Regions from separate parts of the Homo sapiens genome. Here region 1 is linked to region 2. Evidence: fine-mapped expression QTL. A gene starts in region 2. The other region holds a variant in brackets. All regions are shown on one strand. Distances are from middle to middle. Region 1 overlaps USP2-AS1 (USP2 antisense RNA 1). Region 2 holds the start of THY1 (Thy-1 cell surface antigen).

Evidence for each region.
Region 1: its variant is fine-mapped to the expression of THY1 in thyroid (GTEx, PIP 0.97).

What each region holds. Positions count from the first base shown.
Region 1 is chr11:119,475,969-119,481,340 of GRCh38, forward strand. The region is part of intron 3 of USP2-AS1 (USP2 antisense RNA 1); the gene reads left to right. Among named protein-coding and RNA genes, the nearest start is that of THY1, 55 kb to the left of the region's middle. RefSeq lists enhancers at 644-1,145, 1,146-1,645. The variant T/G (reference allele first, on the strand shown) is at 3,338.
Region 2 is chr11:119,420,522-119,425,893 of GRCh38, forward strand. It overlaps THY1 (Thy-1 cell surface antigen), which reads right to left and starts at 2,651. Exons shown (of 4, transcript NM_006288.5): 1 at 2,592-2,651; 2 at 348-408. The coding sequence starts at 384. The region is part of intron 2 of USP2-AS1 (USP2 antisense RNA 1); the gene reads left to right. RefSeq lists enhancers at 1,397-1,963, 1,964-2,529.

The DNA.
Region 1 (5,372 bases), 55 kb after region 2:
TTGGCTGGTTGGCTAGATGGATATATGGATGGATGGGTGAAGGGAGGGAGGGAGAGAGGGATGGGTATATGGGTGGATAGATGGGTGGGTAGATAAGTAGATGGATGATGGATGGATGGATATATAGATGAATAGATGGATGGTGGGTGGGTGGGTGGAAAGATGGGTAGGTAGACGAATAGATGGATGAATGATGGATAGTGGGTGGGTGGAAAGATGGGTAGGTAGATGAATAGATGGATGAATGATGGATAATGGATGGATATATAGATGGATGGATATATAGGTGGATGAGTGGGTGGATGAGTGGGTGGATATACGGATGGATGGATGGGTGGATGGGTGGATGGTTGGATAAATGAATGGATAGATGGATGGATGAGTGGATGGATGGTTGGGTGGGTGGCTGGACATGTGGCTGAGTAGATGAATGGATGGATGGATATATGGATGGATGGATGGATAGATGGAAGCTTGAATTCCCAAATTTCTATGCCATGGAAGTCACAGGGGGACCAAGGAAGTGGGCAGAGTTGCCTCTGAACTGGCCAGGTGAGCTGGTCTGTGGAGATGTTGCTCTGCTCCAGGTTCTGCAAATGAACAGAGGGGCTTTGATGACCCTCAGCCTGAAAACTTGAACTTGTGAGTAGCTCTCAGGGGACTTAGAGCTACAAGAGCTTGGGGGTTTCTGCAGGTAAAGCGAAGGACTGAAGGGTCAGCTGTGGGGACTTCCTGTTTCAGGGTGAGCACCTAGCTGTGTCTAGGGTGGAAGTAGCCAAGGTGGCTGGGAGTGGATGAGCTGGAGGAAGGGTAGCCAGATCCAGGCCTCAGGGATGGGCTGTCTGGGCTCACCCTTCTGCAGCTTGAACCCCAAGGAGTGGGGCCAGGTTCTGGGAGAGGGATGGGGCAGCTGCAAGGCTTGAGTCCAGCTCAGTCAAGGGCAGACAGGAGTTGAGGCCAACCTGGGAGGAACCCTTCCCAACACAAACCGTTACCAGCAGCTGGACCTGGACAGCCAGGGCGGTAGTGGTCTGACCCAGAGCAGGAGTCTGATCCAGCAGGAGCAGGAGCTCAGTGGCAGCCTCTGTTCTATCCCCATGGGCTGCTCTCCACTCAGTACTCCGGAAGGCTCCTGAGCAAACTTGCTGCCTTGTTTGGACTGCTCTGAAGGGGAAAGGATCTGCTCATCCCTGGGCGGGAGAGAGGGTGGTGCACGCCACAGTTAATTCAACAGACACTTGCTGAGCACTCACTGGCTGCCAGGCGTGTGTCAGCGCGGGGGGTCTGTGTTGAGGATGCCACAGTCTTGCCCTGGAGAGTACCTGACCCTAGCAGACGTCAGGTGACCCAGAGCCACAGAAGAGCAGAGGAAGGAATGAAGAGGGCGGGACTGTGGCTTCGCAGGGGCACGGCTTGCAGAGGTCAGTGTGCCGATTCTGCAGCCTCACTGTGCAGGTTCCACTTACAGATAGATGGTAGTAGCATCACGGGCAAATTACTTGGCCTTTTGTGACTCCTATTTGTTTGTTTGTGTTTTTGAAATCTACAATGCAGGATAGTAAAGTAATAGTGTGGAACCCATAGAACTGTTGTGAGTTCATTCATGAGAAGTGTTCAGAATGGTGCCTGGTACACAGCAAGCATTATATAAACCCATGCTATTAGCATTACGGAGCTACCTCTCTCCGCTTTGGTTCTACTGGATTGATCAGACACCTTCTTCCCCAGGGAGGTAGCTGGAGGGGAGCAGTGGTGGTGTGAGGGGAGGAGAAAAAGTGGAGGTTTGGGTGCTGCAAGTGTTCCTGCTTTTCTGAACCTCATCCCTTGTCTGGGGGTGAAGAGAGGTGGGCAAAGGGAAAGCCCAGGTGTCAGGACCCGCCATGATCTCCAGGGACCAATGCACAGCATTGTCTGGGCTAGGGAGGATGCTGGCCTTCCAGGGTCCTCTAGTCCAGAGAGGGAAAGAAGCGCAAGAGGGCACAATGAGCTCTTTCCTTTTTATTTTATTTTATTTTATTTTATTTTATTTTTTAGAAAGGGTCTCCTTCTGTTGCCCAGGTTGGAATGCAGTGGTGTGATCACAGCTCACAGCAGCCTCAAACTCTTGGGTTCAAGCGATCCTCCTGCCTCAGCCTCCCAAAGTGCTGGGATTACAGGCATGTGCCACTGAGCTCAGCCTTCTTTCCTGTTTAAATTTCCAAAGCATATATGCTCCATGTTACATGTTCAAAAAGCATAGTTCAAAAAACATAAAAAGCACAAAATGAAAGCCTCCCTCTGAAATCCCTTCTGCCTCATCAACCCCCTCAACCCTTCCTGCAAAACCTAGTTCTTGAGATTAAACACCATTAATAATTTAGAGTGCATCCTTTCCAGGCCTTATGTATATTTTAATAATCTAAACACACACATGCATACATACCATTTTGTATAAAAAGAAAGGAAAGAAAATTATATAATATTACACACATTATTCTGCAACCTGATTTTCCACCCATGATATGCCATGGAAATCCTTTCATGTTAGTACGTCTGGACCACTTCATGGCTTTTACTGCTTCAGAGTATTCTATCGTGTGGATGTATTATAATTTTTAAAAACCACTTACCCAGTAATGGACACTTAGGTGGTTTCCCATCTTTTGAGATTGCTAACAATTCTGCTGTGAGCATCCCTGCATATGCAGCTGTGTCTGCATGCAAGTGTTTCTGAGACTGAATTCCCCAAGAGGAATTGCAGAGTGACAGGGAATGTGCATTTTAAAAGGTGATGGGTAGTAGGTAGGCATATTTTTAGGGTTTGTATCAAACTCCCATGGGAACCCCTGTATGTCCAGAGAGTGGGCGAACCGTGTTATGTGGGGAGCACAATGCTGGTGACCCAGGTCTCCACACTCTCAGGCTGTTGGGCCCACTTGACATGGGACCACTGCCCCCTGCCTCCCAGCACCTTTGCTTCCTTCCCGTGGGCCTGATGCTGCCTGGGAATCCTCCTGAATCTCCATAGCCCATTCATTTCCTCTTGCGGTGACATATCTGTTCTGTCCCTGTGCTCTTCCCTGGAGCCTCCATTTCTACTCTCAGCTGATGATGTCACTTCCTGTCTCACTGAGAAAATAGAAGCCACTGGGAGAGAATGTCCATGGTCCCCACCCCCACACCACACACCTGCTTGCATCTGCCTGGGTCTTCTGCTTCCTTCCTGGGCTGAGGCAACCCCTCCACTCTGTATGACCAGATCTTCAAAAAAATACTATTATTGAGATATAACTCATACTCCATGAAATTAACCCCTTTAAAGTGTACAATTTAGTGCTTTTTAGCGTGTTCACAGAGT[T/G]GTGTAACATTTACCGCCACCTAATTCCAGAACATTTTCATCCCCACGGGAAACCCCGTTCCTATTAGCAGTCAGTCCTCATTCCCCCTCCCTGGTCCCTGGAGACCACCGATCTATGCTGTCTCTGAAGAAATCTAGTCTCTCCAGACTCACCTGTTCTAGACATTTCATATAAATGGAGTCACACACCATGTGGTCTTTCGCTACTGGCTTCTTTCACTTGGCATTTTGTACTCACGGCTCATCCATGTTGTAGCCTGTATCAGAACTTTGTTCTTTTTTATGGCTGAATAATATTCCATTGGTCAGTTGATAGACATTGGTGTCGTTTCTACTTTTTGGCTCTTACAGACAATGTTGTTATGAATATTTGTGTGCATGTTTTTGTGTGGTTGTATGTTTCTGGTTCTCTTAGGTACATACTTAGGAGTAGAATTGCTGGGTCATATGGTAACTGCAGGTTTAACTTTTAGAAGAACTGCCAAACTGTTATCCAAAGTGGCTGTATCATTTTACATTCCCACCAGCAGGGCCTGGGGGTTCCAGTTTCTCCCCATTCTTGTGATTGCCTGGTGTTCCATTCTAGCCCTCTGGCGGCTGTGAAGTGCATCTCCTCTGGAAGCACAGTCAGATCTTCTCATCTGCTTGAGGACAGCACTCTCATATTTCTCCCTGACCTCTCCTTCAATACGTTTTTCCCTTTGTACCCCAATCACCCGTCAGCATGGAGGCAAGCTCGTATTTTTTCCCGCCTTGAAAAAACTCTCTTGACTCACGGCCCCTCCAGCTAGCTCCCCATCTCTCTTCTCTCTTTTACAGCAAAATCCCACAAAAGAATTGTCTCAACTTGTCTCTGATTTCTCTCTTTTCATTCTCCTTTGAACATACTCTTGTCAGACTTTTGTCCCCACTCTGACCACAATCAAGGTCACCAGTGACCTCTACATTGCTAACCCCAGGGGACCTTTCTCAGCCCTGACTTAAGGATCAGTGGCTTTTTACGTGGTTGGTCGCTTCCTCCTCTTTTCTGACTTGGGTTCCTGGGAGCCCCCCTTCCTGGTGTCCTCTCTTTCGCTGGCTCCTCCTTCTCATTCTCCCCAATTCCTCAACATCTTCCTGATCTGGAAATGTCAGAGGGCCCTGGGGCTCTCTCCTTGGTCCCTTCGCTCTGCTTTCAGAGTGTCTGATATCTCATCCGGTCTCACTCTGAATGTCACCCAAGTGCTGATGACTTGCGGATTGTAGCTCTAGGCAGGGCCTCTCCTCTGAGCTCCACACTCATTTATCAACAGCCCCCGTGACATTTCACCTGACAACTCTGACCGTCAATTCCCAAACGGAACTCCTGACTTCTCCCATTGAGCCTCAGCAAAAGACAGTACTGGGACAGCTTCTTTCTCTACCTAAGGCCAAGGCCTTGGCATCGTCCTTGACTCCTTTCTCTCTTACACCTGGGAGAATCCTGCCATTTTCACCTCCCCACTGTCTTTGCTACCCCAGGGCCAAGGTGCTTGGAGGTTGCAGTGGACTCCTAACTGATGTCTGTTTCCACCCTTGACCCCACGGTCTGTTCTCAACACAGTGCCCAGAGAGATCCTCTTAAAACACAAGCTAGTTACGCCATCCCCCTGCTCAGAGCCCGGCCATGAAGCCCCATGTCATGGAGGCAAAGCCCTCGCCATGGCCCACAGGGTCCTTCAGGGTCTGCCCCCACCCCTGCCCTCTCCAGCCTCCACATAATCCTCAGGGCCTTTTTCTGTTCTTCAGACCCTCCAGGCAGGCCTCGGGCCTTCGCGCTTGCTGTGCCTGCTCTCTGGGATGCCCTAGCTCAGAAGTCTGCTCAACTCTCTCCTCGTCTCCTCCCAGGCTTTACGCAAATGTCACTGCCTGGGTGAGACCGTGTCTGGCCACTTTGTGTAAAACCACAGCCTCCCTGACACTACTCACCGCTTCCGGCTTTATTTTTCTCCTGGGTGCTCATCCCTCTAATACACCGTCTGTTTTACGTGTTGACCTTACTTATGCATTACCTCTT
Region 2 (5,372 bases):
GATCCCACTTCTCCTTTGCAGACCCCAGCCTCCCTCCCCACTCTGCTTGAGCCTTGGATCCTATCAATGTGTTTCAAGGACAGGAGATCTTAGGGAGTTGATGCTGGTTCCGGGTTCTCAGTTGGGGATTCTAGTTCAATAGTGTGAAGGAGGGCTCAGCAAACTGTGTTTTCAAAAACCACCTCAGGCCGTCAGAATATCAGCGCGGTGGATTGGCTGACTTCAGGATGAAAAAGAGCCCTCTCTTTGTCACCTGCGCTTTTCTGAGACTGTGAGGGAGAAGCTGCTTCTCTGGAGGGAAGGAAGCCAGGGCGCCTGGAGCCCCAGTCCTGCCCCATGCCGGGTACCTGTTAGCAGGAGAGCGATGCTGATGGCCAGGTTCATGGTTCTGGGATCTCAGTCCTGGATCTGGGGTGGGAACAGGATGGGAATCAGCCAAGCTGTGCCACACTTACCACCAGGGCTGGGGGTCCCTGGGAACATGGCATAGTGGCTATGGCAGTCATCTAAGTCCCTCTCTCCATTCCCCCTCTCGTCCCTGCATCTCACTGAACATGATACTGCCACTGGCTCTTTCCTGCTCAGGGAAAGCAAGGAAGGAGGGAGAACAAGCCCAGTCACGGTGTGTTTCTGCGCTTGGCCATGGAGCACTTACTAGCTGGGTGACTTTAAGTAACTTTACCACTCTTTCTCCTCTTCTTACATTAACATAGTGTATGGTAATATAAGACCTATGAGGGCTGAGGCTTCGTATTTAAAAAAAAAATTTAATCGTGGTAAAATACAAAAAGCATAATAATTACTATTTTAACCATTTAAATTCAGTACTTAAATTCAGTATATTCAGCAGTGCTGGATACATTCACGTTGCTATGCAGCCCATCTCCGGAACTCTTTTTGTCTTTCAAAGTAAAACTCTGTATCTGTTAAACAAAGACTCCCCATTTAGGGACTTCCCATTTCCTGTTCAGAAGAAAATCCCCAATGCTCAAAACCGTTTCCGTTTGCAGATTACTGGCATATAGCATACACTCCAAAGATATTTATTGTGAATGAATGAATGAATCTCTCTGAATCTTACATACCCACCGGGTTATGATGGGGGTTAAGAAAAACAACCAACATCTGGCGATGACTGCTTCATATACGTGAGACACAAATCCCTAAGTCACTCGCCATCCCCAGTGGATGGCTAGATACCATTCACCATAGCTAAGGATGCTCCCAGATAGGGAGCATCTATTCCTATCTGGATAGGACACAAGCTAATCGTGTTCCTGGAGGAGAGAAAGACATAGTGATCTCCGATTGTATGTGAGCCAAGGATGCTTCCCAATGTCCAGCTCTCTGGAGTTCCTGGGACTGCAGTTTTCCAGCCCAGTTTCAATAGCCACCCTGGATAGGCTGTCTGCCTGGTCTTTTTTTGTTTTTTGCAGCCTTGGCTGAACCAACCCTTGGCGAGGCGACGCGGAGCCGGTAGTCTAGCCTATCTGCAGAGCAGTGCTCGCCCAGGAGAGGCCACAGAAGGGGCGTGCACCCGCGAGAGCGCGCAGGGCATTGCCTCGGTTGAGTGCGCCCGGGTGCGCAGGGCGCACCACTAGACGAGTTCAGGGTCCCTGGCGCTCAGCCCCTTGACGGGTGAGGCTAGGATCCCGCGGCGGCTGCAGCTACAATCAATGCTCTCTCTGTCCCGGGGTGGAGCTGCTGCCCTGAGCCAGATCCAGGAGGAAGGGGGGTCGGCATCTGGCTTTTGAATCGAGGACTCTTGTTTGAGATGTTGTGCGGGCTTGGGATCTAGGAGGGGAAGGGGGAGCAATGGCCAGAGCAAGAAAGGGAAGAAATGGGTCTGGGGCTGGAGAGGGTAGAAGAGCCAGGGGAGGGGTGGAGAGCGGCTGGGGAGGTGCAGTCTGTATTCATTTCCTCTGGTCTGTGTCCTCAGGCGGCTCCAGACCCAGAGAAGGTCTGCTCTTCCTCCCTCTCAAGCCCCCGGCGGGCCTCATCCTTAATCCATTTCCGTATTCCAATCCTCTCCTTTCCCAAATGAGTCCCCCTTCCCCCTCTCTCATCCTTTTCCAGCTCTCCCCTCCCCCGTCCGCCCGCCTTCCACCCAGTCCCCGCCTGCGGCACTGCGGCTTCCTTCTCCTCCGGTGCCCCGCACCCAGCCCGCCGCGAGGTCACCCGGCAGATTCCCTCTAGCTCGCCATCCTCCATCCTCTCCCCGCAGTTTCATCCGTCCTCCTCCCCGCCTCTGCGAGCTGGGTTTGGGGACGTCTGGGTGGAATGTAGACCCACAGGCTGTCCTTGGTGCCCTTCCTCCCTGTTCTCCAGCGCCCCAGCCCCAGACACCAGTCCCCCAGCGGGCGAAAGCCCGGGAGCGCCTTCCCCGAAAGACATCAGGGTGCCACGCGGCCCCTGCCCTGCAGAAGCATCCCCCTCCCGCCCCTGCCTGGAAAGCAGGCCCCTCCCTAAGCTCTGCGCCCTTCTTCCCTGGGCGCCCTCGGACCGTGGCCCGAAGCCTAGTGTTGGGAAGTCTTGCATGGGCGCCTGACGGCGGTCCCCGAGCCCCAGGTCCCACCGGCTCCAGTTCCCACCTGGACTGGGGTCTTCCGCTGCTGCAGCCTCCTCCAGACGCGCCGCCGCCTCCGGTTGCTGCACCCAGCTCGGAGCCCGCAGTTTTCACCGGGGATGGAGGAGAGGGGGAGCGGGGAGCCGGGGGCTCAGCCAATCAGAGGCGGAGATTGGGGGAGAAAGGACGGCAGGGTGGGGTGGGGGGTGGGGAAGGAAGAGAAGGCGGTCCCGCATTGGTGTGAGAGTGGCAGGTTGCGGCGGAAGGGGGCCCTCACCCTGTGGCTGGCAGGCCTGGCCAGGGACGGGAGGGTTCGGGACCCCGGGGATCAGGGTGCGGCAGCCCAAAGAACATTATCCTCCTCCCTGAGCCCCGCAATGGTTGTTCCCCTTTTAAGGCTTTAACCCTTTCTTCTGACCTATTCTTCAGGAGTCTGTGGGAAAACCAAAGTGTAAGAGGTGCAGGATGCAGGCCGGGAGCGCCCACGCCTCCACATTTCCTTTTCAGCTGGAGCCCACCTCCTCCGGAGCCTCCAGTGAGAAGTTTTGGAATATTCCAGTCTTTCTGAAAGGAAGCTGGTTGGGTGTTTTTCAGTGTTGGAGCAGCCCTTCGGAAGCGAGGCAGGTGCTGGACCCACCCTGTCCGTCCCTGGTCCCCAGCCCCATTTCGCCCCCTCATCTATTCCAGAGCACCCAGCCCTTCAGGGGGCTGCAGGCGCTTTTTGCTCTGGGCATTACGTCTTCTTCAGCCCCTGGGCTGGCACCTTCTGGTCCAGACAGCTGGAAGGTTCTTCTGGCTTTCCTGAGTACAGTCTGCTTGTTTGGTCTTCAGACCAGGAAGGGAGTGTTGCCTTTTAGCAGGCACTGTGCTGGGCACATTACATTCATGGCGACCTTTAACCCATGGCCGCCTGCTGGGTTCATCCCATCTCAATCCTCACCTCCTGTCTTGGCTGGTAAGTGGGAGAGCTGGAGAACTGACCTGGGCTATGGACCCCAGCTCTCAAGGGTGAGCCATTCCTCTTGCTCATCCCTGCCTAGTGGGAGAAGAGAGAGAGGAACTCTGGGAAAGAGGAGGAGACAGCACAAAAAGGACTGAGTCGAGGCCAACTCCTGATCACCTGGGGCACTCCTGATAACCCACCGATTGGATGTCACCAGAAGCCCTAGGCTCATTTTTAGAGACAGTGCTGATGACTTTCTCTCACTCACAGGTGTAGTGAATTTTTTTGAACTAACGTTTATTTGATTGATTTGTATCCTGCCAGCCTCTTTATGAATTCTGATCACGACATTCTGTGGGCCTCCCCAATGTCTGCCTGCCTGTTCTCCTATTTCTTCATGGAAGTCAGCCCTGGCACCTTCCCTGCAGTTTCTGATACTGCAGTGGCACTGTTGGAAGCCACTGTTGGAAGCTTGCAAGTGGGAGGAGATTCGCTTGGTTTCCCAGCATTTAGGGTGATGGAACACTCTAACTGGAATGAGCCTTGCAGATGGTTAAGTCCAAAGGAGCTATTCACTTTGGTAAACTGCAGAGGTTTCTAGGGCATTTTATGAAAAATGCAGCTGGCCTTGCCCACCTAGGACCTCCTTAATCTAGTACTAGAGCCAGCTGAGTCTGCACTTTTCTCACGCTCCCCAGGATCTGGGGACTCTAACACATGATCTGGTAAGACTGTCCCTCTTCATAGGTGAGCTAACCTGGCTTCTTGTTTGTAGGATACTTTTTAAGGCCATGAATGTCCTGGCCCCTGGCTGCTGACTTCCCTCCTCCCTCCAACTCCATCCCAGCCATCTTCCCATTCATCTACCTGATGCATTCCAGACACACTGGCTCTGGCTTCTGTCTGCCTCTTCATGGCAGCGCACTCCTTCCTGCTTAACAGCTTTCTGATTCTGAGTCCAGGGATCTTAACTGCAGAAGGCATCTGGGCTCTGCTGGCTGAGGCCCTGGATGCTCCGTTTCCCACTCTTTGGCCCTGTCTCTGAGTGTTGCTGGGTGGAAGGCCTAGCAGTGCTATTTTGATAAGGTTATGAGGACCTGGCCTAATTTCTGGGTCCCCAAGCACCTTGCTTTTAGGCAGGGGAGGGGAGTATAGACTGTAGAAGGTGTGGCAATTCTGTGTCTGCCAAGCAAGATCTCTGATTGGATGGAATTAATGGCTCTGATTAGACATCTGAGGTCAGGGGATAGAGCACAAGGTGGTGGAGGGAGGAGATTTTAAAACTCCATTTACTGTGGATAGGATCGGAGTGCTGAAACCAGCAAGGCTTTAGAGGAATCCAGCTAAGGCAAGACTTCCTGCCAGAAGACTGCGGCTGCCCTGTTGGTCTCTTAGATCTCTCTTTTCCCACCATCTCCTGTTTTCCCACCCAGAAACATATGGGGATAAAAACTCTTCTAAAAACACACAGTCCTTTAGCATGACCTAGGGACTGCCAGCCATTCCCTCATTTCATCAGATTGTCTTTCTAGAATCACAGAGGTGACTACAGTGGTCCCATCTTTTAAATTTTATTTTATTTTATTTTTGAGCCAGGGTCTCACTCTGTTGCCTAGGCTAGAGTGCAGTGGTGCAATCACCACTCACTGAAGCTTTGACCTCCTGGGCTCAAGTGATCCTCCTACCTCAGCCTCCTGAGTAGCTGGGACAATAGGCACTTGACACTATGCCCAGCTAATTAATTTTTTTTTTTTTTTTTTGTAGAGATGGGATCTCACCATGTTGCCCAGGCTGATCTTGAACTCCTGGGCTCAAGTAATCCTCCCGCCTGGCCTCTCAAAATGCTGGGATTACAGGTGGGAG